6 linked regions of the Homo sapiens genome follow. The protein of the gene in region 3 purifies or fractionates together with the protein of the main gene of each other region. This does not show direct contact. Each region holds a gene or a part of one and is shown on either strand. Other genes may lie near its edges.

Region 1 (5,373 bases), on a different chromosome or scaffold from region 3:
CCTGAGGTTCAGTTTTTTCCCTCTGTAAACAGCATATGGGCCGGGCATGGTGGCTCACGCCTATAATCCCAGCACTCTGGGAGGACGAGGCAGGTGGATCACAAGGTCAAGAGATGGAGACCATCCTGGCCAACATGGTGAAACCTCGTCTCTACTAAAAATACAAAAATTAGCTGGGTGTGGTGGTGCATGCCTGTAGTCCCAGCTACTCAGGAGACTGAGGCAGGAGAATCGCTTGAACCCAGGAGGTGGAGGTTGCAGTGAGCCAAGATCAGGCCACTGCACTTAGGCCTGGTGACAGAGTGAGACTCCGTCTCAGAAAAAAAACCAAAAACCAAAAAAAAAACATGATATGGTAGTATCAGTATTTGTCTGTTTTGTTGTTGTTTTTTTTTTTTTAGAGAATCAAATGATATAGTATATGCAAAAGTACTTTGTAACTTGTAACTTGTCAAGTGCTATATTAATGTATTTTCCTTTAGAACTCAGTTTTTATTGTTGAGCAGAGGATTTGTTATATTGGGGTTAGTGGCATGAGATGCTCTACAGAAACTACAAATTTTCTTGTTTCTTTCTTTCTTTCTTTTTTTTTTTTTTTTTTTTTTTTTTTTGAGACGAGTCTTGCTCTTGTCACCCAGGCTGGAGTGCAGTGGCATGATCTCAGCTCACTGCAACCTCTGCCTCCTGAATTCAAGCAGTTCTCCCGGGCTCAGCCTCCCCAGTAGCTGGGACTACAGGCACATGCCACTACACCTGGCTAATTTTTGTATTTTTAATAGAGGCAGAGTTTCACCATATTGGTCAGGGTGGCTTGAATCCTGACCTCAGGTGATCCACCTGCCTTGACCTCCCAAAGTGCTGGGACTACAGGTATGAGCCACTGTGCCCAGCCTTGTTTTGCTTTTACAACCTTGGGTTATATGTGTATGTGTACAGGACATAGCAGTGTCACAGAGGAAATCATAATTATTCCCCTTGTTAGGGGGTATTGAATGGGACATTAGGTGTGTCTTCATTCTTCAAGTTCTTCTTACTCTTAAAAGATGTGTCAACAGTTTTCAGTGTGCTATATTTAGCTTCTCTCAAGGTTCCTTCTCTAATTTGAAAGTGTAAACATCCCTTTTCTAGTAGGAAATATACCCATGTTCATTTTTCAGACATATATTAGTCATCTGCTGTATGCTAGGCAGTATGCTAGGATGAATTTAATAAGGTTCATCCTTCAAAGACCTTTATTTTTATTTTTAAAGTTTTTTTTTTTTTTTTAAAGAGGGTGCTCACTATGTAGCCCAGGCTGGTCTCAAACACCTGAACTCAAGCAATCCTCCCACCTCGGCCTCCCAAAGTGTTGGGTTTATAGGCATGAGCCACCACACTCGGCCTCAAAGAGCTTTATAATATAGAAAGGCTATTGATTTTTTTTTTTTGGTTTAACAAAAAACACATAATAATGCCAAACACCTCAGTTCCTTAGAAATATTAATTCATTTAACCTCATATCAATCTTAGGTAGGAACTATTATTACCCTTTTTACAGGCACGGGAAACTGAGGCATAGATAAGGAACTTGATTATGTCACACAACTAGAAAGTGGAATTTCTGGTTAAAATCCCTGGAGTCTGGTTCCACAGTTTATGCTGTTGGTTACTAGACTTGGCTGCCCTCAGACATCTGAATAGCTAATTGTGCATCTTAGGCATATAAATAGCTAATTTAAAGGAAAGTAAAGGTTAAACTAGTGAGTTAAATGTTACTGTAATTGATTATTGAAGTTGATCTCTTCATTCATGTATTCAGACATTTAGTTTGAACAGACATTAATTAGCCTACGATATATAAGGCAGTATGATAAATGTATACAGTGGTTAAGGGTAGGGATTATCTGTATGTGGATGCAAATTGAATTTCTGCCATTAAGAGGAATTTTTAGTGGTTCAGAACTTTTCTGTATAGGTGTAGTGAGATGCATCATAGTGACATACAAATACATTAAAATATTGTTTTCTTTTTTTTGAGATAGGGTCTTCTTGCTCTTTTGTCCAGGCTGGAGTACAGTGGGGTGATCTTGGCTCACTGCAACCTCCTCCCAGTTTCAAACGATTCTCATGCCTCAGCCTTCTGAGTAGCTGGATTACAGGCATGGGCTACCACAACCGGCTAATTTTTGTATTTTTTAGTAGAGACGGGGTTTCACCATATTGGCCAGGCTGGTCTCAAACTCCTGACCTCAGGTGATCCACCTGCATCACCCTCCCAAAGTGCTGGGATTACAGGTGTGAGCCGCTGCACCTGGCCTAAAATATTGTTTTCATAGTTAAAGAATCACAATTATGGCCGGGCACTGTAGCTCACACCTGTAATCCCAGCACTTTTGGGAGGCTAAGGCAGGCAGATCATGGAGTCAGGAGATCAGGACCATCCTGGCTAACACGGTGAAACCCCGTCTCTACTAAAAATACAAAAAGAAATTAGCTGGGTGTGGTGGCACGCACCTGTAGTCCAGCTGCTCTGGAGGCTGAGGCAGGAGAACGGTGTGAACCCAGGAGGTGGAGCTTGCAGTGAGCTGAGATCGTGCCCCTGCACTCCAGCCTGGGCAACAGAGTGAGACTCTGTCTCAAAACAAAAACAAAAACAAAAAAAGAATCACAATTATTAGAATAGTGCTTGGAAAAATATGAGACTGGAATGATTCCTCACCAATGAGGATTCCTTATCAAGCAGAACAAGATTGTTAGGCTTATCTTATTTATTCAAGTTATTGAAGCTTTAGTAACCATGACACCTTTTCAGCAATAGCTTGAGCTGCTTTGCAAGGGCAGTATGCTTTTTAGCAAAGGTCATAGGAGCAGGTATACTCTGAGCCATCTGATTCATCTCCCTGTTTCAGTTTTCCTGTTACGTCAGGGAGCATTGAGGTCAGGAGTACTTCCACTTAGGCTTAGTGCTAAGGGGTAATAAACTATTTCATCTATATAAAACTACTTTTTCCAGTGTACTTAGAAGATGAGGAAGAGAGATTAGAAAGGTGGAAAGTTGGAGATGGGGTGGTGCTGCATTGCTTGGGAGAAGGGAGCATAAAGGGTCATTATTTTCAGTGTTGTCAGCATTTGTTTTAGAATATATTCTCAACTCCAGTGTGGTGATTCCTCAAGCATCTAGAACTAGAAATACTATTTGACCCAGCAATCCCATTACTGGGTATATACCCAAAGGATTATAAATCATGCTTTTATAAAGACACGTGCACACATATGTTTATTGTGGCACTATTCACAATAGCAAAGACTTGGAACCAACCCAAATGTCCATCAATGATAGACTGGATTAAGAAAGTGTGGCACATATACACCATGGAGTACTTTGCAGCCATAAAAAAGGATGAGTTCATGTCCTTTGCAGGGACATGGATGAAGCAGGAAACCATCATTCTAAGCAAACTATCACAAGGGCAGAAAAACAAACACCGCATGTTCTCACTTGTAGGTAGGAATTGAACAATGGGAACACTTGGACACAGGGCAGGGAACATCACACACCAGGCACAGTCGGGGGGTGGGGGGTCTGGGGGAGGGATAGCATTAGGAGAAATACCTAATGTAAATGACGAGTTGATTGGTGCAGCAAATCAACATGGCACATGTATACCTATGTAACAAACCTGCACGTTGTGCACATGTACCCTAGAACTTAAAAGTATAATAAAAAAACAAAAAAAAAAGAAGGAAAAAAGAATATATTCTCAAGTCATGCTGACTTGTAGACCTAAATGAAAAGATAATCTTAGGGGCTTTTGAAATTAAACTTATTAATAAATTAGATTTTGTCAAATTTACTGTTGGCAGGACATCTTGAAGAAAACTTTGAAAAATGCTTAGTATAATTTGCATCTTTAAGTTCTACATTCACTTCAAAAGTGGTTTTTTTTCTTTCTTTCTTTTTTTTGTTAGGAGCCCTCCCTAAGGCATATCCTGATAATCATCTCAGTCAGGTGGATGTAAATGAATTGTTTTCAAAATTGCTAAAAACAGGAATTCTCAAATTGTCCCAAACTGATTCAGCTACAACACGTAAGTGTGATTTTATACTTAAATTTACACAAAGCTTCATTAAGTTTTTGAGATGTATGATGTAATATAATGATATAAGTTATGATAAAGGTCCTTACAATAATTGAATTCCTAGGTATAGCTTTTATTTTTGATTTTCGGTTTATAATGAAATTCTTTTAGATTTCCTAAGATTGAACTACCTTATAGTGGACATGTGTTTCAGTTAACTAACATACCTAATGTGCAGGCTTTTTACCAGTAATTGTATGTTAGATTAACTTTTGAAAAGGTTTTGAATATTAATGAAATAAATGACTTTTATTATAGATGACTTTTAAGAAATCAGAGTTAACATCACATATCAAAATAAAAAATTGTATTAGGTTCCTTGGCCAGTAAACTTGAGATCAGAAGCACTGAATGGACTAGGTGGATTTCTCTATTTGCTTATAATACTATAGTGTTCCTCTGTAGAGAATACATGGAGAATGGTATTAAGAAATTTGTATGTCTCTTCTTAATTGAAGAAGTAAGTGAAGTAACTGCTCAGCCTCCCCCTGAAGAGGAGGAAGATCAAAATGAAGATCAAGATGTTCCAGATCTTACTAATTTTACAGTTGAAGAATTGAAACAGTATGTAATCTAATTTTCTTTAAGATAAAGAGGCAGTGACTTTAATAACACTGTTATAGTGGACATTGTTACTATTAGTGCTTTCCCTTTCCCTTTATCCCTTTTACTGTTTTAACATTTAGGAAGTCTTTTTTTTTTTTTAATGTGGTAAAATATACATAACATAGTCTTTGGGAAGCCTATTTTTAAATCGTCTTTTAAAATATGTCTGCTGTACAAGTACTTGGGCCAAAGGCCACCCCCAAAAGTCTTACTCTGCTGCCCAGGCTGGAGTTCAGTGGCGTGATCCTGACTCACTGCAACCTCTGCCTCCCAGGTTCAAGTGATTCTCCTGGGATTACAGGTGTGCACCACCATACCCAGCTAATTTTTGTATTTTTAGTAGAGATGGGGTTTCACCACGTTGGCCAGGCTAGTCTCGAACTCCTAACCTCCAGTGATCCACCTGCCTTGGCCTCCCAAAGTGCTGGGATTACAGGTGTGAGCCACCACACCTGGTCCCTCAAAATTTTCATTTTTTAATCTGTGATACAGAAAACTTAGGGAGTTTAAATATTAGGTATTGATAATTCATGTATTCCTGTTTAGTTTCATTTTCTGTGTATCATCATTTTTTCTGTATTGATATTCTTAACATTTTTGAGGTTCAGAAATGAGATTTTCATAGTTCAGCATTTACAATTAAAAAAA
Region 2 (5,373 bases), about 31 Mb from region 3:
ACTGCAGCCTTCGCCTCCCAGGTTCAAGCAATTCTCCTGCCCCAGCCTCCCGAGTAGCTGGGATTACAGGCATGTGTCACCATGCCCGGCTAACTTTTTTGTATTTTTAGTAGAGACGGGGTTTCACTGTGTTGGCCAGGCTGGTCTTGAACTCCTCGAACTCTAAAGTGATCTGTCCGCCTCTGCTTTCCCAAAGCACTGGGATTACAGATGTGAGGTCCCTGATTATTTTCTTGGTTAGTCTAGCTAAGAATTTGTCATTTTCTTGATCTTTTCTAGTTTCTAAGGTAAGATCTTATGTTGCTGATTTGAGTGATTTGAGATCCTTCTTTTCTGATGTAGATGTTTAAAATTATAAATTTCTCTCTTAAGCACTTGTGACGTTTTATATATATATATATATATATATATTTCCCTCCATAGTTCCTGGCTCACAGCTTCTATAACCCTTGTACTTTCCTCAGTGACTAAAGCAGTAAGAGTATCTTCTGTTAAAATATTTGGCCTTTTGTCCTTGCTTCCTGAAACACCTCTGGAACTGCTCCAGAGCAAGAAAGGTGAAAAACAGACTTTTGTTATTTATAACAAGCCCCTTTCTTTTTTTTTTTTTTTTTTTTTTTTTTTTATGAGATGGAGTCTCGCTCTGTTGCCCAGGCTGGAGTGCAGTGGTGCGATCTCGGCTCACTGCAAGCTCCGCCTCCCAGGTTCATGCCATTCTCCTGCCCCAGCCTCCCAAGTAGCTGGGACTATAGGCGCCCACCACCACACCTGGCTAATTTTTTGTATTTTTAGTAGAGACGGGGTTTCACCATGTTAGCCAGGCTGATCTCGATTTCCTGACCTCGTAATCTGCCCTCCTCGGCCTCCCAAAGTGCTGGGATTACAGGCGTGAGCCACCGCACCCGGCCATATAACAAGCCCCTTTCAGCCACACCTTGGTACATGTTAATAGGGTGATTTTTGAGAAGTCCCTAGATTACCACATTCTGGTTGGCTGGTTGCCATAGGAACCAACCATGTGCTCAGAGGCTTGGAAGTTACAGCCCCCCATCTTGAGAGGGTAGAAAGGAGCTGAAGGTTGAATTGATCACCGATAGCCAGTGATTTAATCAACCATGCCTATGTAATGAAGCCTTCATAACAACCCAAAGACCTCAGTTTAGGGGCTTCCAGGAAGGTGAACAAGAACACATTCATGTGCTGGAAGTGTGGCACACCCCAATTCCATGGGGATAGACGCTCCTACACATTAGACCCTTCCAGACCTGGCCGTATGTATCTCTTTATCTATTTGTATCCTTTAACATATCTTTTAGGTTGGCCTGACCCAGTGGCTCCTGCCTGTAATTCCAAAACTTTGAGAGGCCAAGGCAAGAATGTTAGTGGCCATGAATCTCAATTTCTGCCTCCTCAGAAGAAAGAATTCAACCAAAGGGGCATAAGGCAAAGTGAGAGACCAAGGCAACTCTTAGAGCAAGAGTGAAAGTTTATTAAAAAGTTTTAGGGCAGGAATGAAAAGAAGTAAAGTATACTTGGAAGAGGACCAAGATGGCGACTTGAGAGAGACAAGTAGGCGGTTTGACCTTTGACTTGGGATCTTACACATTCACACGCTTGCTGGGTCTTGCGTGTTACTTCTCCCCTGGTTTTTCCCTGAGTTCTGTGAGCTGCTCTAGCAAATTAATTGAATCCAGGGGTGTCATGGAAACCTCGATTTATAGCCGGTTGGTCAGAAAAACAGGTGAAAGAATGTGGAACCTGCAATTGGCATCAGAAGTAGGGCTCAGTCTTGTAGGAATAAGCCCTCAACCTGTAGGATCTGAAGCTGTCTCCAGGTAGATAGTGTCAGAATTGATTTGAATTAGGGGACACCAACTGGTGTCCACTGCAGAATTGAGTGCTTGGTTTCTGGGAGGAGAAAACCCACACATATGGTCACAGAAGCGTTCTGTATTGTAAAAGTAAAGTAGGATAAACTGAGTTTTTTTTCTCCAGAGCACTGCTTTAGTTGCAACTCATAAATTTTTGAATGTTTTATTTTCACTTAAATCAGTTCAAAATAATTTCTAATTTCCCTTGTAAAATTTCTTCTTTGATACATGTTATTCAATTTCTAAATATTTGAGGATTTCCCAGATTTCTTCCTATTGTTGATTTCTGATTAAATTCCATTGCGTTCAAAGAATATACTTGAGATGAGTTCAGTCCTTTTAAATGTAGTGCAACTGGGCTGGGGGCGGTGGCTCACGCCTGTAATCCCAGCACTGGGAGGCCGAGGCGGGTGGATCATTTGAGGGCAGGAGTTCAAGACCAGCATGGCCAATATGGTGAAACCCCCATCTCTACTAAAATACAAAAATTAGCCGGGCATGGTGGTGCCGTGCCATGGGGTTTCACCGTGTTAGCCAGGATGGTCTCGATTTCCTGACCTCGTGATCCGCCCGCCTCAGCCTCCCAAAGTGCTGGGATTATAGGCGTGAGCCACCATGCCTGGCTATTTCATTTTTAAATAACAGCTTTATTGACGTAAATCTCACATTCCATAAAATTCACCTGTTTAAAATGTACAATTCTGTGGTTTTTAGTATATTCACAGAGTTCTGCAACCATCACCACTGTCTAATTTTAGAACATTTTCATCACCCCAATAAAGAAACCCTATACCTAGGAGCAATCATCCCTGGCAACGACTTATCTCCTCTCTTTATGGATTGATGCCTATTCTGGACATTTCATGTAAATAGAATTGTATAAATATGTGGCATTTTTGTGACTGGCTTCTTTCGCTTAGTGTAATTTTTTTTTTTTTTTTTTTTGGTTTTTTTTTGAGACGACATTTTGCTCTTGTTGCCCAGGCTGGAGTGCAATGGCATGATCTAGGCTCACTGCACCCTCTGCCTGTAGAGTTCAAGCGATTCTCTTTTTTCTGTTTTATTTTGTTTTGAGACAGAGTCTCGCTCTGTCGCCCAGGCTGGAGTGCAGTGGCGCGATCTCGGCTCACTGCATGCTCCGCCTCCTGGGTTCACGCCATTCTCCTGCCTCAGCCTCCCGAGTAGCTGGGATTACAGGCATGCGCCCCACAGCCAGCTAATTTTGTATTTTTAGTAGAGACAGGGTTTCTCCATGTTGGCAAGGCTAGTCTCAAACTCTCAACCTCAGGTGATCTGCCGCCTTGGCCTCCCAAAGTGCTGGGATTACAGGCATGAGCCACTGCGCCTGGACACTTAGTGTAATGTTTGCAGGATCATTTGGCTGGATATAGAATTCTTAGTTGACATTTTTATTCTTTTTCACCACTTTGAATATGTCATTCCAGTGCCTTCTGGCCTTAATTGTTTTCAAATAAGAAGTTGTCATTAATTGAATTATTTCACTGTACATGATGAGTCATTTTTCTCTCTCTCTCACCGCTTTCAGGATTTTCTGTCTTTGCCTTTCAACAGTTTGTGATGTGTCTAGGTGTAGCTCTCTTCACATTTTTCCTAGTTTGGGTTCCTTGAGATTTTGGAATGTGTAGATTAATGTTTTTCATCAAATATGGGAGGTTTTTGGACATTTTCTTCAAATATTTTTTTCTACTCTCTCTCTCTTCTCTCTTCTTCTGAGGCTCTCCTTACACATATGTTAGTATGCTTGAAGTTTTTCCATAATCTCTGAAGCTTTGTTCATTATTCTTCAATGTTATTTCTCTTTGTTCTTCAGATCAGCTATTTCTATTGCTGTATCTTCAAGTTCACTGATTCTTCTGCCATTTTGAACTTGCTGTTGAGCTCCTCCAGCAAATTTATTGTATTATAATTTCAACTCCAGAATTTCCATTTGTTTGTTTTATTAGTAGCAGATCATCAGTACCCTTACATTTGCTTTCTTCATGCCTTTTCTTTTTTCTTTTTTTTTTTTTTTTTTTTTTTTTTGAGATGGATTTTCACTCTTGTTGCCCAGGAGTGCAATGGCACAATCTCAGCTCACTGCAACCTCTGCCTCCAGATCCAAGCAATTCTCCTGCCTCAGCCTCCCGAGTAACTGGGATTATAGGTATGCGCCACCACACCTGGCTAATTTTTTGTGTTTTTAGTACAGATGGAGTTTCACTATGTTGGTCAGGCTGGTTTTGACCTCCTGACCTCAGGTAATCCACCCACCTTGGCCTCCTAAAGTGCTGGGATTACAGGCGTGAGCCACTGCACCCAGCCTTTTTTTGTTTTTGTTTTTGTTTTTAGACAGAGTCTTGCTCTGTCACCAGGCTAGAGTGCAGTGGCGCAGTCTTGGCATGCTGGGATTACAAGCATGAGCCACTGCACGCAGCTTTTTTTTTTTGAGACAGAGTTTCGCCCTTGTCACCCAGGCTGGAGTGCAATGGCACAATCTCAGTTCACTGCAACCTCCACCTCCTGGGTTCAAGCGATTCTCCTGCCTCAGCCTGCTGAGTTAGCTGGGATTACCAGCCCTCTACCACACCTGGCTAATTTTTGCACTTTTTAATAGAGATGGGGTTTTACCACGTTGGCCAGCCTGGTCTCAAACTCCTGACCTCAGGTGATCCGCCCGCCTCGGCCTCCCAAAATGCTGACATTACAGGTGTGAGCCACCATGCCCGGCCTCTTCATGCCCTTTTCATTGGATAGAAATTTGAGCTTCTTGAGACCATCAGCAGTATGGATTTGGCCAGGCATGGTGGCCCACACCTGTAGTCCCAGCTGCTTGAGAGGCTGATGCAGAAGGATCACTTGAGGCCAGGAGTCTGAATTCAGCCTAGGCAACATAATGAGACTCTGACTCTAAAAAATTAAATTAAAAACAAAAACACAGTATGGACTCACAAAATGGAAGTACCAGTGCTAAGTAGACTTAATAGGACCGTCTTGTTCATTCTTTTAGGCCATACTGCCCATTAAAATACTACATTGTCTAACCATTCTCATCCATGGGTAGATTATACCCAACCTCCCTTTCCTATGATTGTTTGAGGGGTTTTTGCTTTTGAGATGGGGGATCTTGCTCTGTCACCCAGCTGAAGTGCAGTGGCGCAATTATGGCTCACCAGAGCCTCGAACTGCTAGACTCAAGTGATTTCCCCCATGTCAGCTTCCCTAGTAACCAGCACTACAGGCGTGTGCCACCACACCTGGATAATTTTTTAATTTTTTTTGTAAAGATGAGGTCTCACTTTGCTGCCTGTGTTGGTCTCAAACTCCTGGCATCAAGCAATCCTCTAGCCTCAGTCTCCCAGAGTGTCAGATTACAGGCGTGGGCCACTGACCCAGCCCTAGGATCTTTTATTTTCTGCTTTCTGACTATAGCTATACCTAAAAACCCTTTGCCTCCTAATAAGCTGGGTAGTAAATAGGTTTCATCTTCCTAAGGATCACCTTC
Region 3 (5,373 bases):
GTCTGTGGTTTGCTCATCATCTGCACATACAAAATGAACACTTATGTGGCAGAAGTTTAAAAACATGCCTAGAAATGGTACAAATTTAAGATGATTACTCTAGGGAAGAAGATAAGAAAATGGGAACGGGAAGGTGCTTCAATTATCCGTAAGGTTTTATTTTTTAAGGGGAACTGGTGAATATACAAATGATAGATTATTCATACTTTTTGGGATGTCTAAAACATATCACAACAAAATATACATGCACCTACACACAAAAAAACCATTAATTATTTTTTAATGTTTCCTCTAGTATGCAATGCTCTGAAAGAATTAGAGGGTCTTGGCTGGGCACAGTGGCTCACACATATAATCCCAGCACTTTGGGAGGCCAAGGTGGGTGGATCACCTGAGGTCAGGAGTTCAAGACCAGCCTGGCCAACATGGTGAAACCCCGTCTCTACTAAAAATACAAAAATTGGGCAGGGGTGGTGGCATGCACCTGTAGTCGCAGCTACTCAGGAGGCTGAGGCAGGTAGCCTGAACCAGGAGGCAGAGGTTGCAGTGAACCAAGACTGAGCCACTGCACTCTAGCCTGAATGACGACAAAGCAGGACTGTCTCAAAAAAAAAAAAAAAGGAAAAAAGAAGAAGAAAAGAATTAGGGGGTCTTAACTGACAGTGGCTTAATATGAATAATTGTGAAATGATCACCTCAAAAACATAATGCAATCTTGGGCTGTACTAACAGAACATGTTTAATCATCACCATGAAGGTGATAGTATGAACTCTTTTCTACACTATTCACCCAACATCTAGGGGAAGCATTCACCTTTGCACCCTTACATGAAGTGGGATACAAACATAACTGAAAGAGAATTTAGATGCAAATGAGCAGGATGATAAATGGAGTTGATGCCATGTACTGTAAGGAATACTTTTTAAAAATCTGACTGTATTTAATCTAAGCATGAGATTATCTAGGTCAATCTCTGAATGGCTCTGATGTGTGGTAGTTTGTTGTTTTGTTTTTTCCTTCCTTCATCTATTCAATCAAATATGCTTTGAGCAATATGTACCAGACATTGTTTTAGGCACTAGGGATAGAATGGACACAACAGGCAAAATTCCAATTCTCTTGGAGCTTCTATTCCCATTTTTAGAAGGAACATATAACTTTTTTACATGGGAAAAAGGAGGGCAAATGGGTAGACACAAAAAAGACTGATTCTAAAAAATAAATAGCTCTACAGTTAAAGTTGCTCTGTGGTAGATGGTTATTATACTTTAGGGTGCATAACAATAACTTAAGAGTACTTGTTAAATATGTATATTTATAGGCCCTGTATCTAGAGACTGACTCTACAGAGGTTTGAGAAGCTGAAGCCCAGAAATTTGCACCCAGGTAAGTGATTCTGATGTAAAATAGCAGGTCTCAAACTTTAAGGTATGTAAGAATCACCAGGAGAGCTTGTTAAAACACAAATCCTTGGGCCCCACCCATAGGGATTCTGATTCAGTAGGATGGAGTATGGCTCAAGAATCTGAAATTTTTCCCCCAAGAATCTGCATTTCTATAAGATCCCAGGAGATCAGATGCTACTGGTCTGCAGTTCAAATTAAGAGTAGCTCTTCTGTAGAAGACCCAAGGACCAGGAATTGAAAAATACTGATCTAGAGGGTGTAACTAAAAGACCTTTAATTCCCAGTGAACCAGATTACCTTCTGGATACCTCCGTGCACTGTTGAAGGAGCAGACTGGGCCACTAGCACCTGCTGCTGATGTAGATGCTGTGGCAGGTGATGGTGCTGCTGTGAGAGGTGACTAAGTGTTTGCTGTTGTTGCAGGAGCAGCTGTGCTGAGGACTGTAGTGTCGGTTGCTCATTATTTTCCCTATGCCACAAGACTCGAATGAATCGGTTGTTTAGAACTGCTTCTGTGCTAGAAATGGCTTTCCTGGCCTCCTCATTGGTAAGATATTGGATTAGGGCTGCTTCTGGGTCACCCTTAAAAGCAACCTTGAAGAAAATAAAACAATATAAATTCCCAAAAACAGAAAATAGTTAAATAAATTATGACCCACTGCTATGTAATGAATGTTTTCCCCAAAATACACATGTTAAAGCCCTAAACTCCAACATTACTGTTTTAGAGATAGAGCTTTTAGGATGTAATTAAGGTTAAATGAGGTCACAAAGGTGCATCCTAATGAATAGTATCGGTGGCCTTAAAAGAAGAGAAAGAGATCTGCCCTGACCCCCTCTTTCTCTTTCTCTGTCTGCCATGTGAGAACACAAGAAGCCAACCATCTGCAAGCGAGGAAGACAGCACTCCCTAGGAAATGAATCATCCAGCACCTTGATCTTGGACTTCTCAGTCTCCAAAACTGTGAGGCTACCCATTCTCTTTCAGGAAGAGATTGCAGAAAAGAACCAAATGAATTCACAAGAACAAACATGGTTTAACAAGTCCATCATAAAAGTGGGTATATAGATATATGGTGGCATTTACAGCACTTAGCAGAGATGATCAGAATAACCACTGACTCATTTAAACAAGGTGAGCTGATAGAAATATTCCCAAGACCCATAAAATGCCTGGATTCTGTCACTGACATAGCCACATTTACCTGGATATTAACAATAGTTCCAAATTTGCTGAAGTGTTCATTGAGCTTGGTAATGTTGTTCAATTCCTGAGGGATTTTCTTGACTTCTAATTTGGTGTTTGTATACTGATTCTTTCGTAAGAACCCTGGTTTATTTTGATTGTTATTTCCTTGCCTAAAAGGAAGATTAATACATCTTGGTTAATTCTCCTACTTCATGCCTAGCAAAGAGATATAACCACAAAGAATTTAGGTTTATAATTTTTTTAAGTGCCTTTTGTGGCTGGGCATGGTGGCTCCACCTATAATCCCAGAAAACTTCTTCAAAATCATATGAAACATTATATTCAAAATTCAAACCACAGAAAATACATAAGCATCCAGAAACAGATTACAGGCTGAGCGAAGTAGCTCATGCCTGTAACGCCAGCACTCTGAGAGGCCAAAGCAGGAGGATTGCTTGAGCCCAGGGGTTCCAGACCAGTCTGGGGAACATAGTAAGACCACATCTCTATGTAATAAATTAACTGATTGATTAATTTGTTTAAAGTTCCTTTTGTGAGCCCTTAACATTCTTCGGAAATTACTAAGCAATTTTCACATTCTTCTTTTTTTTTTTTGTAGACGGAGTCTCACTCATTCGCCCAGGCTGGAGTGCCGTGGAACAATCTCGGCCCACTGCAACCTCCACCTCCCAAGTTCAAGTGATTCTCCTGCCTCAGCTTCCTGAGTATCTGGGATTACAGGTGCATGCCAACACGCACGACTAATTTTTGTATGCTTAGTACAGACAAGGTTTCACCATGTTGGCCAGGCTGGTCTTGAACTCCTGGCGTCGGTGATCTACCCGTCTCGGCCTCCCAAAGTGCTGGCATTACAGGTGTGAGCCACTACGCCCGGCCAACATTATTCTTTTTTTTTTTTTTTTTTTTTTTTTTTTGAGACGGAGTCTCGCTCTGTCGCCCAGGCCGGACTGCGGACTGCAGTGGCGCAATCTCGGCTCACTGCAAGCTCTGCTTCCCGGGTTCACGCCATTCTCCTGCCTCAGCCTCCCGAGTAGCTGGGACTACAGGCGCCCGCCACTGCGCCCGGCTAATTTTTTGTATTTTTAGTAGACACGGGGTTTCACCTTGTTAGCCAGGATGGTCTCGATCTCCTGACCTCATGATCCACCCGCCTTGGCCTCCCAAAGTGCTGGGATTACAGGCGTGAGCCACCGCGCCCGGCCACATTATTCTTATTACATGAGAATAGAAAAGGTGAACAGCAATAGATTACAAAAAGAAAAGGCCCAACTAACACTTAAAATCATATGCTAAATAGATCTACCATAAAGATCTACCACAATTATCAAAGACTCTAACATCATTAAATGAAGGCTAGAACACCACCTTTTTTTTTTTTTTTTTTTTTTTGAGACAGAGTTTTGTTCTTTTTGCCCAGACTGGAGTGCAATGGTGCAATCTCAACTCACTGCAACCTCCGCCTCCCAGGTTCCAGCGATTCTCCTGCCTCAGCCTCCCAAGTTGCTGGGATTACAGGCGCGTGCCACCACACCTGGCTAATTTTGTATTTTGGCTTTCTCCATTTTGGTCAGGCTGGTCTCGAACTCCTGACCTCAAGTGATCCACCCGCCTTGGCCTCCCAAAGAGCTGGGATTATAGGCGTGAGCCACTGTGCCCAGCTAGAACATCATCTTTAACGGCATATTTTCAACTTCTGCAAAGGTACTAAGCTTTTTTTTTTCACCGTTGATTTCATTTTTTTCTTCTTTTCTATCCATTGCTAGTGTCTCAGTAATTTCTAATATTGGGTTAGGCGTAGAAATAGGTAGGTACGAATTAGAAATACCTATTTTGGGCTGGATGTGGTAGCTCACACCTGTAATCCCAGCACCTTGGGAGGCCAAGGTGGGTGGATCACCTGAGGTCAGGAGTTTGAGACCAGCCTGACTAACAAGGTGAAACCCCATCTCCGCTAAAAATACAAGAAAATCAGGTGGGCATGGTGGCTGGCACCTGTAATCTCAACTACTCAGGAGGCTGGGACAAGAGAATCACTTCAACCCAGGAGGCAGAGGTTGAGGTGAGCTGAGATTATACCATTGCACTCCAGCCTGGATGACTACGTCTTTTAAAAAAAAAAAAAAAATTATAAATATTGTTAACTTTTTAATTTTTACAACATTCTAAAGATGTCTCCTGGAACCCTAACTTCAAGATACCTAGTTTGAAAAACATTAATTAATGACAAATCTTATTTTTATGAATTTACCAATGCAAACGACAATAACAATTAGATGCTACTAATTAGCAAATTATCTTACTTTCCCAGCCAAGGTTTCTTTGTGAGTGGCCCTTCCAAACCACTCATAGCTCTTTTTCGACTATCTGGTTCAAGAACTACTCTGGTTATGTTGCTATTAATCGAAACAGGAACTGGTGGTTCAGTCTGGATCACAATGTTAGCAGCTGTTGGAAAAAAAAATTGAAATTACTGAGTTTTTCAGGAGTCTCAATGATTAATATATTTAGTCTAAAAGCTAAAAACTACTATGAATAGCTCAACTACTATCATTTCTCTTTTAGAAATGCCTAACAGAAGAAAAAGTTACAAATGCCTTTTTCTATAAAAAATAGAAATCCATGTTTCAAAACTCAAAGTTAACCTCGATGTAATAATTGACTCAGGCATGGATGATCAATAGATGAAAAAAATATTGGTGAAAGGTTGCTGGAAAACAAGATATTTATGGTGCCAAAGTACCACTCCAAAAATTACA
Region 4 (3,864 bases), about 24 Mb from region 3:
AGAATGTAAAACTAGGGGAAGAATAGAACAAAAGGAGAAAGTTTTAAACTAGAGGAGAAGTAAGAGGTAGCAGGCAGAACAAGGTCTCAAAGAAGAATACATAAATTCTCATCTTAAAGAATATTCAGGATAGGAAGAAGTAACAGCCTTAAGAGAGGAAGAGGTTAAAAAAGAATACAGATAGGCCAGGAGTGGTTGCTCACGCCTGTAATCCCAGTACTATGGGAGGCCGAGGTGGGCGGATCACCTGAGGTCAGGCGTTCGAGACCAGCCTGGCCAACATGGCAACACCTTGTCTCTACTAAAAATACAAAAGTTAGCCAGGCATGATGGCAGGCAACTGTAGTCCCAGTTACTCAGGAGACTGTGGCAGGAGAATCATTTGAACCCAGGAGGCGGAGGTTACAGTGAGCAGAGATCGGGTCACTGCACTCCAGCATGGGCGACAGAGAGAGACTCCATCTCAAGTAAAAAAAAAAGAAATACAGATATAGGCTACTGTGTATATTTACCTGTCAGGAATTAAAGGATCTGAAAACACGTTGCACATCTTTCAGTCTTTTTTTTCCTAGATGGCAAGTTTCATGTTTACTAAATTATCTCCTCCAATATCTAGGAAAGTGAGTCTGGATATATCATAGGATGTTCTCAACTTACTGAAGCAGTATACTACAGTGGATAACATAATTAGCTTTATAATCAGTTATAAGTTGCTCAGTTTCTCTAAGCTTGAGTTTCTTATTCTGTAAGACAGGGATAAAAATGATATCTACCTAGTGAGACAGTAAATATAAAACACATAATATAATGCCTGGCACATAGTAAATGCTCAGTAAAAGCTAGTTGTTACTTTTATTATTGAGTAAGAGACTTGTTGCACATTTTGAGTAATTTCAGTATATGCTTGAATTTTACCATCTCCTTCTCCAGTTAAGTAACTTACTGATCTATAAGTGTTGATAGGCTAATTTAACTAACTTTCAAAGAAAAAGAAACTGTTTTAGAAGGCAATATTTCTACTAATATCAAAGTTAAAAGTATGGACACTATTATAGAAAAGGCAGCAAAGACTTGGGTTTCATACACCATAGTCTATAAAATTAGAACCTATGATTTTATAGTGTAAAGATCAAGCCAATTTTTTTTCTTAGTTGGCCAGAAAAAGCAAACTCTCATTTCTAAAAATACTCATGATTTCTTCACAAAGAAGTCATCCTGCAACAAAATACCCTATTATTATAGAAAGCAAGAATAGGATAGTATGTCATCAATAAGACTATAAAAATGAAGCAGTGTCTGAGCCAAGGAAAAAATTTCTCTGGAAAAATAAATGAGCAGAGGTCTTTTCTCCAAATTTAATTGAGATTGAGAGTTTGTTTTGTCATCATTTATTTGATACTCCCAAGTAGGTAATAACCATTTCCTAAGAAAATTACAAATGACCTTTTAATTAAGAAAAATGCTTTATTTATTTGCTTTGTTTAGAAAAGACAACAAAATTTGTAAAAGAACCATAAATAAGGAATAAAATTTGACACGTAAGAACAGCAAATATATAGTCTTTCTAGTATTCATTTTATATTTAAATTCATTCCAGTTTTTAAAAAGCATTACAAAAGAAGTTGAAGTCAGAGTAGCCAACCCAGCCTGCCCTAACTCCTGCCACAAACTCAAGACATATATATACTATGAATTTTATGAATTTAAGGAATACATAGGCTATGAATTTGGCTTTCTATGATGCAACCATTCCATTGCGCAATCACAGGGAAAAATAGAACACAAATCAAACCAAACCAAACCAAACCAAACCACGATAGTGATGTGGTAATCTTGTAAACCTACAAACTTTATCACTGAATCAGATTTCCCTTTGCTGATGAGATTCAAAACAAGAAACAGAAAACAGGCTTTACATTTAGATCAAAAAGGACAACTTTTCTTTCTAATTAATCAAATGTATCACTGAAATTTACAAAAGGGAAGTATTCTAAAGATTGAGTATCTTTTGTTCTCAAACTCTTCATACACCACATACAAGTTATTATATATAACAAACCATGGAAAGAATGTAGTGTGTGTGTATGTATATATTTTTTATATATATAAAAAATTTAACAAATTCCAGTTTACTCCAGTTTTTAAACAGTATTACAAAAGAAGTTAAAGTCAGAGTAGCCAACTATACATTGTATGTGTATGTGTATGCACATATATATATTATATATATATATACATGCATACACACACACACTGCATTCTTTCCATGGTAAAATAAAATCAGCAATTATATAGTAGCTCAAAGCCTCTGAATAATTTAAGACTACAAAAATGACTATTCAGAAGAAATTACAGGGAAAAATTTAGGTAGGCAATGTAATTTAGTAAGAACCTTGGTTAAGAGAAAGTGAAAGAGATAAATTGTAACTTCCTATTTTATTGCTATTCTCAAGACAAAATCTCTAAAGATTTTATTTCTCATAGGAATATCATTTTAAAAAGGTATATGAAAAAACTAAATAATCTGCAAACCACAGAGACACAAATGATCACTGACAGTCAAATACAGAAGACTTTTTTTTCCTGAAGGACTGAATAAAAAGGGAATTATAACCTTGAGAAATAAAAGTTATATCAGATGGATTCCATGAATTTTATAATAGTGTGCAGCAGAGGGAAGGAAGAACACAAGAAACAAATATACTTCATATCAAAGAGTCGTTTCCTAGATGTTTTTATTCAGATTAACTGGGATAACTTTGTCCTATTAAACACTTTACTATCCGTTTAAAAGGAAGAAAGGCTGAGAATCTTTGATAACTTAACTCAATTAAAATAGTTAGAGAGTTTTATTTCTCTTTTACTTAATTCAAAACTTGAAAGTTATACCAAAATATAATAGGCAAACATGCATGCAAAATGACCCTGCAATTAAGAAAATTGCTGGGACCAAATGTTGTTTTTAAGTTCTACAGTAAAACAGTCTCCCAGACATTTAATGTCATGTCATTTGGTAAATGAAAGTTTCCTCAAAGTAAGAGCAGCAAGAAGACCTAAAAATTATGCTAGTGAAGAGTCTGACTGAAAAAAAAAACAAAAATATGGGATCACATTGGTCTAACACTAATTTTATTTGAAGTTACTACAGAACTGAATAAAATGCCGATACCAATACATAAAAATTTATTGAGCTGGCAACAAGGAAAGCATGATGTCAGCCACCAATATCACCATCCACATTCCCAAATAGCATGAAGACTTTAATTCTTGAACTGACTTCGTGCTAAAGTTACAGTAAAAATAAAAACCTGAGGCAGGAGGCATTATTAAACATAGATGAATTTAGTTTGGCACAATTTTGACTCAAATTAGCCTAGCACTTTAACAAATTCAGTCAAAAACAGAAAAATGCAAGCTTAAATGTTACAATTTTCTAAATGTGCTACATTCTTCACCAAACAGACTGATACAAGATGTCTTACGCAACTCTCGGGAATATTCAAATAAGCAATACCACACACAAACAAAATGCAGGATAACAGGATACTCAGAAACATACACACATACACACCCACACAAGTCCTTACCTTCATGGCATGGATTTCTTCAAGCAATCTTTGCGCCCGTCTTTGGTTTTTTAACAGTGCATCTTCAGTACCCCTGCAAAAAATACATTACGATATGTAGCCAGGCAAAGCATTAATTTTAGACTTATAGTGTAATGGATAATCACTTCATTTCTTTTTAGAAAAGCGTAATAAATCTCTAAATAACAAACACGCCACTATCCTACACTGTCCATTTCCCCCACTCCCAAAACACACCTCAATTTACTAACCAAACCCATATGTTGGAAAATGGCAA
Region 5 (5,373 bases), on a different chromosome or scaffold from region 3:
CTCCCTGTCTCAGCTGGGAGGTTTTCCCATCAGATTCCTTGGCCTCACTCCAGATCCAGTGAATCAGACCCTTTGAGAGTATATCTAGGAACTTGCATTTTATTTTTTATTTTTATTTTTGTATTATTATTATTTTTTAGTAGAGATGGGGTTTCACCGTGTTAGCTAGGATGGTCTCGATCTCCTGACCTCGTGATCTGCCCGCCTCGGCCTCCCAAGTGCTGGGATTACAGGCGTGAGCCACTGTGCCCGGCCTTTATTTTTTGAGACGGAGTCTCGCTCTGTCACCTAGGCTGGAGTGCAGTGGTGTGATCTCAGCTCACTGCAACCTCCAACTCCTGGGTTCAAGTGATTCTCCTGCCTCAGCCTCCCAAGTAGCTGGGATTACCGGCCTGTAATCCCAGTAGCTGCCATCACGCCTGGCTAATTTTTGTATTTTTAGTAGAGATGGGGTGTCACCATATTGGCCAGGCTGGTCTCGAACTCCTGACCTCAGGTGATCCACCCGCCTCAGCTTCCCAAAGTGCTGGGATTACAGGTGTGAGCCACTGTGCCTGGCGGGAACTTGCATTTGAAACAAGCATTCCCCACATCTTTTGGCTTGAGGTTAAAAGGCTGGCTACAATCTTGCTATTCAACATGTGGTCCCTGGACCAGCAGCATCATTATCACCTGGGAGTTTGAGGAATGGAGTCTCAGGTGCCACCCTGCCCTTGTCAACAAGATCCCTGCGTGACCCCACTTGGAAAAGAACTGCTTTTCAGAGCCCTCCAGCTCTCCCCAACCTCCTAAAGGAGGGAAGGACTTTTAGCTCAGGAGGAAGGCTTTCATTTCATAAGAGGAAGGAAGGCTCATGATGCAGAGGTCTGCCTGGTGGAAGCTCTCGGGGGAGGACATTTCCTCCTTGGATCCGTGGATCAAGGAAAACCTTTCACCAATAAATGTTGGTTGGTGGGCGATGGGGACTAAGAGGGCAGGGCAGGACTGAGCATCTAAAGAGGAAAAACCAGCAGAAAAGAGGAATCTGGGGACAGAAGAGAGGACCAGCCCTGCCACAGCCCAGAGGATTTCATGCAGTGAGGCTTGCCTCCCCAGTGTTAGACCATCTGGGGAGGTTTGCTTTTTAACCTGGCAGAATTTCCAAGGAACTTAACCTTGGTGTCTAGGGAATTTGTTAACCTTGGGCAAAGTCAGAGACATTGTTGCTCGTGGCTATTACCCAACAAGGGACTAAATCATACTTATTGTACATATATATTTATATATTTTATTTGTAAATACTTCTGAAAAGCACCCCTGATATTGTAAAGTTTGGTTTCTATTTAACTATGACATAAGAGAACAACAACAAAAAAGCTAAAGAGAAAGTTACTAAGATAAAGAACACACACAGCAAAATCTCATCTTTCAGTAAAAAAATTAACTTTAACAACAAATATGGGAAACTATTTTCTGTGCACCCCTATTAGACGAGAATCACCTCAGTGAAGGAGAGCAAAATTAGAACATTACATCGGCTTCATGCCAGCACCTGAAAGATGCTTTTAATGATGCGATAAATGTTATTTATGGACCCTGAGTCCCAGTTTAAATATACCAGGAAAACTAATGTTTAATGAGCAATTTGATGTAAAAAGACTCCCTTTTACAAAATGAATATCAAATCCCCCATTCTCCCTGCAGTTTATTTTCTTCAGGAGCTTAGATATTTATATATTGCATTCGCTTAAAGCAAGACATATCTTTTGCAGGACTGGTCTAGGAGGGCCACTTACTTGATTGTGGGTTCTCCGCCTTCCATGCTGATCACCTGTCCTTCCTATACCCTCTTCTCTCCCCTAAAGTCTGCAGAAGTTGATTTTAGCCAAGCAGGCCAGTTGCAACCCTGTCACCACCCACAGTAGCCTTGAGCCAGCCAAAAGGCAATTTGGAGCATCCCTCCCCAGCCTGCGAGGGGGACCCAGGGGAGGGTGGGGACCTGGGAGCAGGCAGCCTCCTTTGCGTGTCCTCATTACCTGCCAGGTACTCAATGACTGCCGCCATGTAGACAGGGGCGCCCACGCTGATCCGGTACTTGAACGTCCCTTTCTTCAGATAACGCATCAGCCTCCCCACTGGAAAGATGACACCTGCCCTAGCTGAACGGGACAGCTTGGACATTTTCTTCTTCCCACTCCGGCCCGACATCTTGCTTCAGTTTCCCTCTCAGCTTGCTGACACAGTGGCCTCCCGGCACTAACACAATGCTAAAAAGGAAAGAAGACAGAGTTGAGGAAGGGTAGTTGGCAAACATCTTGGGCACAGTGGCATGGCCCTTGGGCACCACTGTGACACCTCTGACTGCCCTGGGGAGGCAGCTGAAATCTGGCTGCTACTGCAGGTGCAGGAGGCACGGAGTCAGGCATGGGGTCTCTGAAGGGCATGGGCAAGCCCACCCACAAACATCCCTCCCCCACCAAAGCAGCCTGACCTCAAGAGGAAAGGCCACAGAAAACTGTCACTGAATAGGGAGGTCTCGGTCCTGTGGTCAGCTGAACAATGATCCCCAAAGATGTCAATTTCCTCATCCCCAGAACCTGTGACTGTTATCTTATATGACAGAGACTTTGCAGATGGGATTAAGCTAAGGGTCTTGAGATGGGGAGGTTTATCTTGGATTATCTGGATGGGGCTAACATAATTGCCTTAGAAGACGGAGGCAGGGGGTCAGAGTGGGCAGTAAGAGATGTGAGAACAGAAGGAAAAGGATTTTCCCCTCAAAGCCATCAGAAGGAATTAGTCCTGCTGATACCTTGACTTTAGCCCAGTAAGGCTAATTTTGGACTTCTGACCCCTGAACTATAAGAAAATAAATTTGTATTGTTTTAAACACTAAGTTTGGGGTAATTTGTTCCAGCAACAATAAGAAAACTAATACAATTCCTCTTGGCTTATATGACTTTGCCCATTATAATGGTTAGTGTATTAGTCTGTTCTCACACTGCTAATAAAGATGTATCCAAGACTGGGTAATTTATAAAGAAACAGAGGTTTAATGCACTCACAGTTCCACGTGGCTGGGGAGGCCTCACAATCATAGTGGAAGGTGAAAGGCACGTCTTATATGGCAGTAGACAAGAGAGAATGAGAACCAAGCGAAAGGGGTTTCCTCTTATAAACCCATCAGATCTCGTGAGACTTATTCACTACCACGAGAATGGTATGGGGGAAACCACCCCCATGATTCAATTATCTCCCACCAGGTCCCTCCCACAACATGTGGGAATTATGGGAGCTATAATTCAAGATGAGATTTGGGTGGGGACACAGCCAAACCATCCGTTAGGTTTGACAGACATAACTGAGAGCTGATGTGTATTTTTTAGACACTTTTCTAAATCCTGCAATAATGTAGCACTCAGAAATGGAAACAGGCCAGAAGAGGCAGTTTTACTGAATATGTGTGGTATGCAAACATAGCAAATGAAAAGCCATAATGCAGCCTGAGCGTCTGTTCCTTGGAATGAGGAATCCAGGTTGATTTTGGGAGAAACTTCACAGTCAGCACAAAGAGGTGAATTCAGCACCAGGAACTAAGAGAGAAACATTCACTGTTGCTTAAGGAAGCTATCTTTTGTGTGAAGACAAAATAATCACATATTCCTGGACAGAGTCTTTGTAAGCCCACCCACAATCTAGAAAATTGTAGTAGATCTTGGGTAGGCTTGGTCTGCTGGTTGACAGGGTACCGTAACCGACAAATGGAATATAATCTTCAGTAAGTAAAAGCAAATTACAAGGGACAAACGGTCAGGAGCAAAGAAAAGGAAAATGACATTTTCTAGGAAATGTGTTAATATATCAAAGCTCTCTTCCCCAAGGTCAATGGCGTTCTCAGGGGCCGTTTCCTCTGGAGATGAAAAATGAGAAAGTCAGAACAAATTGAAATTGGTTCTATCCATTGATCCTGGTTAGGTCATCATACCAACAGGCAAGATGGCAAAGGAAAGGAGGGCCCAAGAAAGTCCCTAAATATGACAGAAGAAGATATTAAATGAATGCTTGGTTAATATGAAATAGATACAAAACCAGGATTTACTTAATCTAGGTGAAAGAGTGAACAGATTTCAATTTTCTAAAGCATCTGATAACTCCATTACGACCAAGGAGACTATATTAAAAGCTCTGAAATTAGCAACAAAGCCCTTTCTCAACTCTCACCTGTCCCCGAGGTGAATGATTCAAGTTTGGGGCATTTTAGTATATACTTCATATACATTATTTAAAATGCTCATATGTACTTACTACTCCCCTATTTTATACTTCATATGTCGTTTTGCCACCAAAGGATGTAGCTATTCATCAGTTAGGTACAAGCAAAGATGAGAGAAGTGCCTTAGACTATTATCTCTTTGACTGCAAGGCCCAGAGATCAGGCAATGTTGCCATGTTGTTTTATCACGTTGTTTCTTCATCTGGAAGAAACAAGATCTCCCACCTTTGCCGTGCTGCTGCTGTCTGTGGCTGCTCACTCTCATAAATCCACTTGTAGGGGTTTTCTCTTTGAGGAAGCAAGCAACTATGTGTTAGGTAAATGTATGGAGGGCCTGCTGTTAGTCAGCCCTGTCGCAGGAAAGAGGGGAAACAGACAGCATTGCTAAGTGGTCCCTGTCCTCACATAGCACGTGTTTGCTAGCTGGGTTGTGGTGCTCTAAATGGAGGTGGCTCTTGCTATAGTGGAAGGAGCCCAGGACTGCGGAACAGAAAGTCCTGGGCATAGCGCCGCTTCTACATAACTACAGTCATGCACCCCACAATGACCGCATATGACGGTGGTCCTGTATGATCATAATGGAGCTGAAAAATTCCTATGCCCTAGTGACATCTTTTTGTTGTTGTTGTTGTTGTTTGGGAAGGAGTCTTGCTCTGTCCCCTAGGCTGGAGTGCAGTGGTGCAATCTCGGCTCATTGCAACTTCTGCCTCTGGGGTTCAAACGATTCTCCTGCCTCAGCCTCCCAAGTAGCTGGGACTATCGGTGTGCACCACCATGCCTGGCTAATTTTTGTATTTTTAGTAGAGACGAGGTTTCACCATGTTGGCCAGGGTGGTCTCAAACTCCTGACCTCAAGTGATCCATCTTCCTCAGCCTCCCAAAGTGGTGGGATTACAGGTGTGAGCCACCACACCTGGCCAACCTAGTGACATCCTAACGGTGTAGCACAATGCCTTACTCATGTGTTTGTGGTGATGCTGATGTAAACAAACCTACTGTGCTGCCAGTCATATAAAAGTCTAGCACATATAATTATGTATAGTATATAATACTTGATAACAAATGACGATGTTACTGGTACTCCTTCTACTTATTAAAAACAAAGTAAACTGTAAACCAGC
Region 6 (5,865 bases), on a different chromosome or scaffold from region 3:
TCATTTGGATAATTGCCTGACTTATGTGACTTGAGACTGGATTTCCACAACATGTTGTTTCTCTCTCCTGCGCACGCATCAGAGTGCCTTGCTCTGCAACGGGAATAGGACTTTCAGATCTGTTTTCAACCTCTAACATAGGTTCATCTGAATCAGAGTCACTAAGGTCCTCAGCTGTTAAATCTTGGCTGCCTGTAGACTTTTCTCCATGCAAGGTATCACTCAAGAGATCACTTCTCTCAGTCTCAGCTTCATCTAATCCATTTGCAACAGCACCACTGTCTTTGTTGGCAACAGCCCAATGGATAGGATGTGTGGCTTGCAGGTGTCGTTGAAGTGTTGAAGTCCCTAAGTGGGACCCTGGCCTACCCCGGCTCACACTTCTTTTACATATATTACACACAGCTCTTGAGATGTGCTGAGGATCAGTGTAAAAAAAATTCCAAACGGCAGATGTCTTGGCTCTAGTTCCAGGAATTAAAGCATGCTTGACAATGTTACTTTTGATGAGAAATCTCCCTCTTTCTGCCCTTAGGGCATCAGATGCTGATTTATCATGCTTCTTGCCCATTCTATTATCATCTAATGGATCAGTAGGAATATATTCAAAGCTTCCATTGCTTCCAGAAGAGGGAGATAAAGACACATCCAAGGTAAAGTCCTCCTCTCCACTAGCAACTCCAAACTTGTTGGCCCTGGTCCAATGAGGTGAATGCCTTGCTTGCAGATGTCGTTGAAGAGTAGATGTACCAAGATGGCTACCTGGTTTACCCCTGCTGACGCTTTTCTCACAGAGGTTACAAATGGCCCGCCAGGTGTACTGGGGGTCAACATGAAAGAAGTGCCACACAATGGAGGTCTTGGCTCTAGTACTAGGTAGATAGATCTGTTTTTCTATATTGCTCTCAAAAAGACTTTCTTCATCCTGCTCAGGGTCATTGGAAGCTAACAAAGCAGGGGCATCTGCAACAGGCCTCCCAGATCCCAAATCCTTACTAAACTTTTTGGCAAGAATCAATTTTTTTCGACGCCTTTTCCCCTTAATTCGCAAACCCTTCTTTCTTTTCTTTTTAGCAGGCTGTTTTGCCTCTTTATTCACTCCTTCTGCTACCATCTTTTCCTCTACCACATCTTCTTCATCTGTATTAGAATTAATAGGAACACATCCCAGAATCCCAGAATCACTAAAAGTGTTGCATCTTCTGCCAGGAGAGAGTGAAGAAACTGGTACACTTAGAGTACATACACTCATTCTCTTTATGTCTCCACAATTCGTACCAGAATCTGTTAGTGGGTTTATTACTCAAGCAGAAATACAGCTGTTCCTCTCTACTTGCATTACCTTTTCTCCAGTTTCTATGGGGAATCAAATTCCCACTGGACCAATAACTTCCAAGCCAGGTTATTTTTGGAGGAAAACTGACAGCAATGGAGAACATTCCCGAACTCTTTCTTAGAGGGCTTTAAGGTCCCTTCCAATTTTCTAAGTTCTGAATTCAAATAGTCCAGTGTCCTCATGTTACAGAAGTAAGAACTGAGTCCCCCTTTCCCAGAGTCACAGAGTTGGTTAGTAGCAGCTAGAAGCCAGGTCTTCCAAATCCCAGATCCATGTTCTTCCTGCTTCATCAAGAACTATATCTACTTGAAATGCCTTCACCTTGTAAAATACATATTTTTATGATGCCTCATGATAGCGACATCAATTTCCCTTAATTCTGAAATTAACTATTTTCAGGAAATCTCATTTAAACAAAAACATAGTGCATCATTCAACATTCATCATTTAGGACTGTGATTTGCCAATACAACCCAAAAAGTCAATTCTGGAAAGCCAACACAGACTCCGCATACTGGTCACAGCAAATGCTAGTTGAGCCCTTTCAGTTCTAACTAAAAGTAATACAACCTTTTAAAATGTGAGTGGCTGGAAAAAAATGCTTTGAGAAAAAAATTTTAAAACAAGGTTAAATGCTGCATTTTCAAAGTACTGTTTGTATTAAGAGTTAATTCAAGTTTAGTTTTCAGATATTTTTAGACTTGAGAAGCTTTTACAGCCTGTAAGTAACTCACAAGTTGTACGCTATAGAGATAGCAAAAAGTGAAATATGAACTTTAAACCACTTCCATTTTTCGATTGATCCCTCCCCTTCCCCCAATACCTACATACATTTACCCTAAAAAGCATCGCTATCTCTAGTTCCACAGCCTCTTTCTCAAGGTCCAGAACCAAGGCCTGGAAGATGTCAACAATATAGGCCTTCCCCATAGGAATCCGCACCGATTATGGGAGTTTAGGGGTGTTCTTCATTACGGTTTCACCAGTCCTACAAGGAGAACGGAAGTGTCCCTGTTGCTCTTGACTCCGACGCTGAGGGCCAGGGGTGGGAGTGTAATGAGAGTGGGGAATGGGTGTAGGATACCGGAATAAGGTCGGTGGCTTTCTGTATGTGGAGTTTGAGACAAGCTCCAAAGTACCGGGACCCTGGAGAGGAATGAGAGTAGGTAAATTCAGCGCCCGGCACTCAGTCTGATTGATTTAGGCAGTGAGGGTCCGCTCAACTAGAGAAACTGTTGCCCCGAAGAAAGCAATCTAGTGTCAGTTCTCTCTTCGGGATTCGGGGGAACAGTCGGTTTTCGGGGCTGCTCCGGGCTCCTCGAGATTAGCGAACACCGGATGTGGGGGAGGGGAGGAAGGTTGGCTGGGAAAGGAGCAGGCGCCGTGGGGGTGGGGTGAACGGGGTGGGGGTGGGGAGGATGGGAAAAGTGAGCGGGAGCCTGGGGCTCCCAGCCAGCCCCGGCGAGGGCCGCGACCGGGAGGTGGGGGGGAGGGGTCGTTACGGCGAAGCTGAAGGATCCGCTCTGACTTCCCGGGATAGGCCGCGACCCAGGGGCGAGGGGAGGCCGCTGCCACTCCCCTCGCCCTCTCCCCCACCTCCCCGGCCCCAAGCCACCCGGGAATCAAAAAAACGGGTCTAGTTACCAGAGAACAGAAACTTTACCGAACCGATGACACTATCCCCGACTCCCGCTTGCTGCCACGTCTTTCTTCTTGCTTGGCCGCTGCCGTCCGTCGTCCTCCCAGCAGCAGCAGCACTAGCAGAAAACCAAGACTGCCAGCGTCAAAGATGGCGCCTGGCTACAGGCTCCGCTCTAAGGCCCGGCCGGTAAAAGTGCCAGCACGACGCAGGGCGCGAGGATTCTGGAAGATGTAGTTCCTCTATGAGGCGATGCCTAAGATGGCTGCTCCGGGTCACAGGGTCACGTGACGGGGGAGGCGCTGGGTCGGGGAGTCCCTTCCCTTCAGAGGAATGCCTCGAAGCCGGCTTTCATAACGTTTTGTTTTTGTTTTTAAATCAAATGAGGTAATAAGCGGGAGGGCCGCAGGAACTGAGACTGCCATTCAGTAAGCGCTCAATTTATTCTTACCAAAGTGTTTGCTTAATGAGTAAATCTCCCAAACCATGTATACATTTAATTTAGAAATAAACTGTACTTTTCCTAAGCATGCAATGTAGAATGATTTGTTAGTTTATTTTTTACTTGAAGAAGTGAGATTGGGCTTTGGGGGGGTGTTTCTTTGATTTCTTAAAGCAAATTTGTGTATTGGAAAAGTAATTCATGCTCGTGACAAAATTCAGGAGAGTTAGTTGGAGGTCGCAATCAGCAGTCTCATCCCTGCTTCATTATTAACATTGTCCCTTATTTTCCCTTTTGAATGTTTTTACTTTTTCCCCCGGTTATAAAAGTAATACACGTGGCCGGTGCGGTGGCTCACGACTGTAATTCCAGCACTTTGGGAGGCCTCGGCAGGCGGATCACAAGGTCAAGAGATCGAGACCATCCTGGTCAACATGGTGAAACCTCATCTTTACCAAAAATACAAAAATTAGCTAGGCGTGGTGGCACGCGCCTGTAGTCCCAACTACTCGAGAGGCTGAGGCAGGAGAATCGCTTGAATCTGGGAGGCAGAGGTTGCATTGAGCTGACATCGCACCACTGCACTCCAACCTGGCGACAGAGTAAGACTCCATCTCAAAAAAAAAAAAAAAAAAAAAAAGTAAAAAACTTAATACACGTAAGTTTTTTTAGAAACAATACAGAAATATAGAGAGTAGAAAGTTAAAATCTCTATTAATCTCATTCTTGAGAAATAGCTCTCATTAACTTACCATATATCCTTTCTGGCTTTTACACTGAAAATATACTTAAATATATTACACATATAATAGGAGCCCAAGGTCCCCCTGGGGTAGTGGCTCAGCAGAACTCTAATTAGGTGGCAACATTTTACCTAACTTGGGTAAAGGATATAGTTGTGCTACTAAGAAAGGAAACACTTGATGATAAAGCAGATGGGACTTCAGGCACCTTTTATTTCCTCGTGTGCTTGTTCTTCCAGCTGCCGGGTTGGTGATGTGCGAGTCCCAGGCAGCCCAAGACTAGGAATTTATCAGAGCAGAGGGGTCCTGAGCCTCCTCATATCTGGGCTTTTATCTCCTTTCAAAGTAAGAACCACAACTTTAGAATCTTAGCTCCAATCTCTGCCTTACGTGACAGTGCTCTGGCATTGCCATGTCAACAGACCTAATAAGCAAGTTCCTGGTAGCCAATTTCTTTTTTTCTTTCTTTTTCTTTTTCTTTTGTTTTGGTCTTCATTTTTTTGGTCTGTGTGACTCTTACTGGTAACCAATTTCTGTCTGTGCCACGACACCTAGGGTTTTTAAAATTTACCAGAGGGCTCTCCACATAGCTTAAGGGTTTTCCAACCTAGGACTCTCCAAGATGCAGTCCTGGCCTGACTAGTGTGCTATATAGAGTTTATAGTTATATTTCAGTAAACCTAAAGTATCATTGATTGTAAGATACACTTTTATTTTACAAGCCTCTAAGTGGAAGAAAAAAACCAACAACTGCCAATTAAACTGACAGGCCGGCCGGGCAGGGTGGCTCACACCTCTAATCCCAGCACTTTGGGAGGTTGTGGCGGGCGAACCACAAGGTCAGGAGTTCGAGACTAGCCTGGCCAACATGGTGAAATCCTGCCTCTACTAAAAATACAAAAATTAGCCCAGCACAGTGGCACGCATCTGTAATCCCAGCTACTTGGAGGCTGAGGCAAGAGAATTGCTTGATCCTGGGAGGTGGAGGTTGCAGTGAGCCAAGATCACGCCATTGCACTCCAGCCTAGGTGACAGGCTAGGAAAGGATGTACATCTTAGAATGAATGAAAATATGAACAGGCTAAAACTATACATACCGTTTTGCAATTTGCTTTTTTCACTTTACAATATATCTTGAATATCTTTTAATGGTCATCAGCACTTAGAGGCCTACCATATTCTTTTTTTTTTTTTTTTTTTTGAGACAGAGTTTCACTCTTGTTTCCCAAGCTGGAGTGCAATGGCACAATCTCGGCTCAATGCAACCTCCGCCTTCCGGGTTCAAGCTATTCTTCTGCCTCAGCCTCCTGAGTAGCTGGGATTACAGGAATGCACCACCACGCCAGGCTAATTTTGTATTTTTAGTAGAGACGGGGTTTCTCCATGTTGGCCAGGCTGGTCTGGAACTCCTAACCTCAGGTAATCTGCCCACGTCGGCCTACATTCTTTTTAATAGCTCCCATCCCGCTCTCTGTAAGCCTCTTTTTACAATTTATTTCACCAGTCCCTTATTGATGGAAACAATCATGTTTCATTTTCCATTAGTATCTCTCAAGGGGGGGAAAGAAAAAATAATAGGGTAATAAGGACATTGAAGAGGGCAAGCTGGGCAGGGGCTCACGCCTGTAATCCCAGCACTTTGGGAGGCCCAGGCCAGCAGATCACTAGAGGTCAGGAGGTGAAGACCAGCCTGGCCAACGTGGCG

Evidence for each region.
Region 1: the proteins of RBM27 (region 3) and PCF11 fractionate together in Homo sapiens (co-fractionation; one large-scale study listed by BioGRID). This does not show direct contact.
Region 2: the proteins of RBM27 (region 3) and ZNF346 purify together in Homo sapiens (co-immunoprecipitation; one large-scale study listed by IntAct). This does not show direct contact.
Region 4: the proteins of RBM27 (region 3) and SRFBP1 purify together in Homo sapiens (co-immunoprecipitation; one large-scale study listed by IntAct). This does not show direct contact.
Region 5: the proteins of RBM27 (region 3) and MACROH2A2 purify together in Homo sapiens (co-immunoprecipitation; one large-scale study listed by IntAct). This does not show direct contact.
Region 6: the proteins of RBM27 (region 3) and ZC3H11A fractionate together in Homo sapiens (co-fractionation; one large-scale study listed by BioGRID). This does not show direct contact.

Annotation. Positions count from the first base shown.
Region 1 is NC_000011.10:83,173,137-83,178,509, forward strand, and holds part of PCF11 (pre-mRNA cleavage complex 2 protein Pcf11), read left to right. Parts: intron 1-3,948; coding exon 3,949-4,068; intron 4,069-4,524; coding exon of another isoform or gene 4,525-4,571; exon of another isoform or gene 4,572-4,577; coding exon 4,578-4,683; intron 4,684-5,373. UniProt on the Homo sapiens protein: Component of pre-mRNA cleavage complex II, which promotes transcription termination by RNA polymerase II.
Region 2 is NC_000005.10:177,028,111-177,033,483, forward strand, and holds part of ZNF346 (zinc finger protein 346), read left to right. Parts: intron 1-5,373.
Region 3 is NC_000005.10:146,258,138-146,263,510, reverse strand, and holds part of RBM27 (RNA-binding protein 27), read right to left. Parts: intron 5,063-5,373; coding exon 4,918-5,062; intron 2,767-4,917; coding exon 2,613-2,766; intron 2,002-2,612; coding exon 1,705-2,001; intron 21-1,704; coding exon 1-20. Other genes in the region: RBM27-POU4F3, read right to left, coding at 1-20, 1,705-2,001, 2,613-2,766, 4,918-5,062. UniProt on the Homo sapiens protein: May be involved in the turnover of nuclear polyadenylated (pA+) RNA.
Region 4 is NC_000005.10:121,975,111-121,978,974, reverse strand, and holds part of SRFBP1 (serum response factor-binding protein 1), read right to left. Parts: intron 3,661-3,864; coding exon 3,588-3,660; intron 1-3,587. UniProt on the Homo sapiens protein: May be involved in regulating transcriptional activation of cardiac genes during the aging process. May play a role in biosynthesis and/or processing of SLC2A4 in adipose cells.
Region 5 is NC_000010.11:70,072,473-70,077,845, reverse strand, and holds part of MACROH2A2 (core histone macro-H2A.2), read right to left. Parts: intron 2,247-5,373; 5' UTR 2,188-2,246; coding exon 2,016-2,187; intron 1-2,015. UniProt on the Homo sapiens protein: Variant histone H2A which replaces conventional H2A in a subset of nucleosomes where it represses transcription. Nucleosomes wrap and compact DNA into chromatin, limiting DNA accessibility to the cellular machineries which require DNA as a template.
Region 6 is NC_000001.11:203,792,910-203,798,774, reverse strand, and holds the start of ZC3H11A (zinc finger CCCH domain-containing protein 11A), read right to left. Parts: upstream 3,153-5,865; 5' UTR 2,981-3,152; exon of another isoform or gene 1,253-2,980; coding exon of another isoform or gene 1-1,252. Other genes in the region: ZBED6 (zinc finger BED domain-containing protein 6), read right to left, coding at 1-1,252. UniProt on the Homo sapiens protein: Through its association with TREX complex components, may participate in the export and post-transcriptional coordination of selected mRNA transcripts, including those required to maintain the metabolic processes in embryonic cells.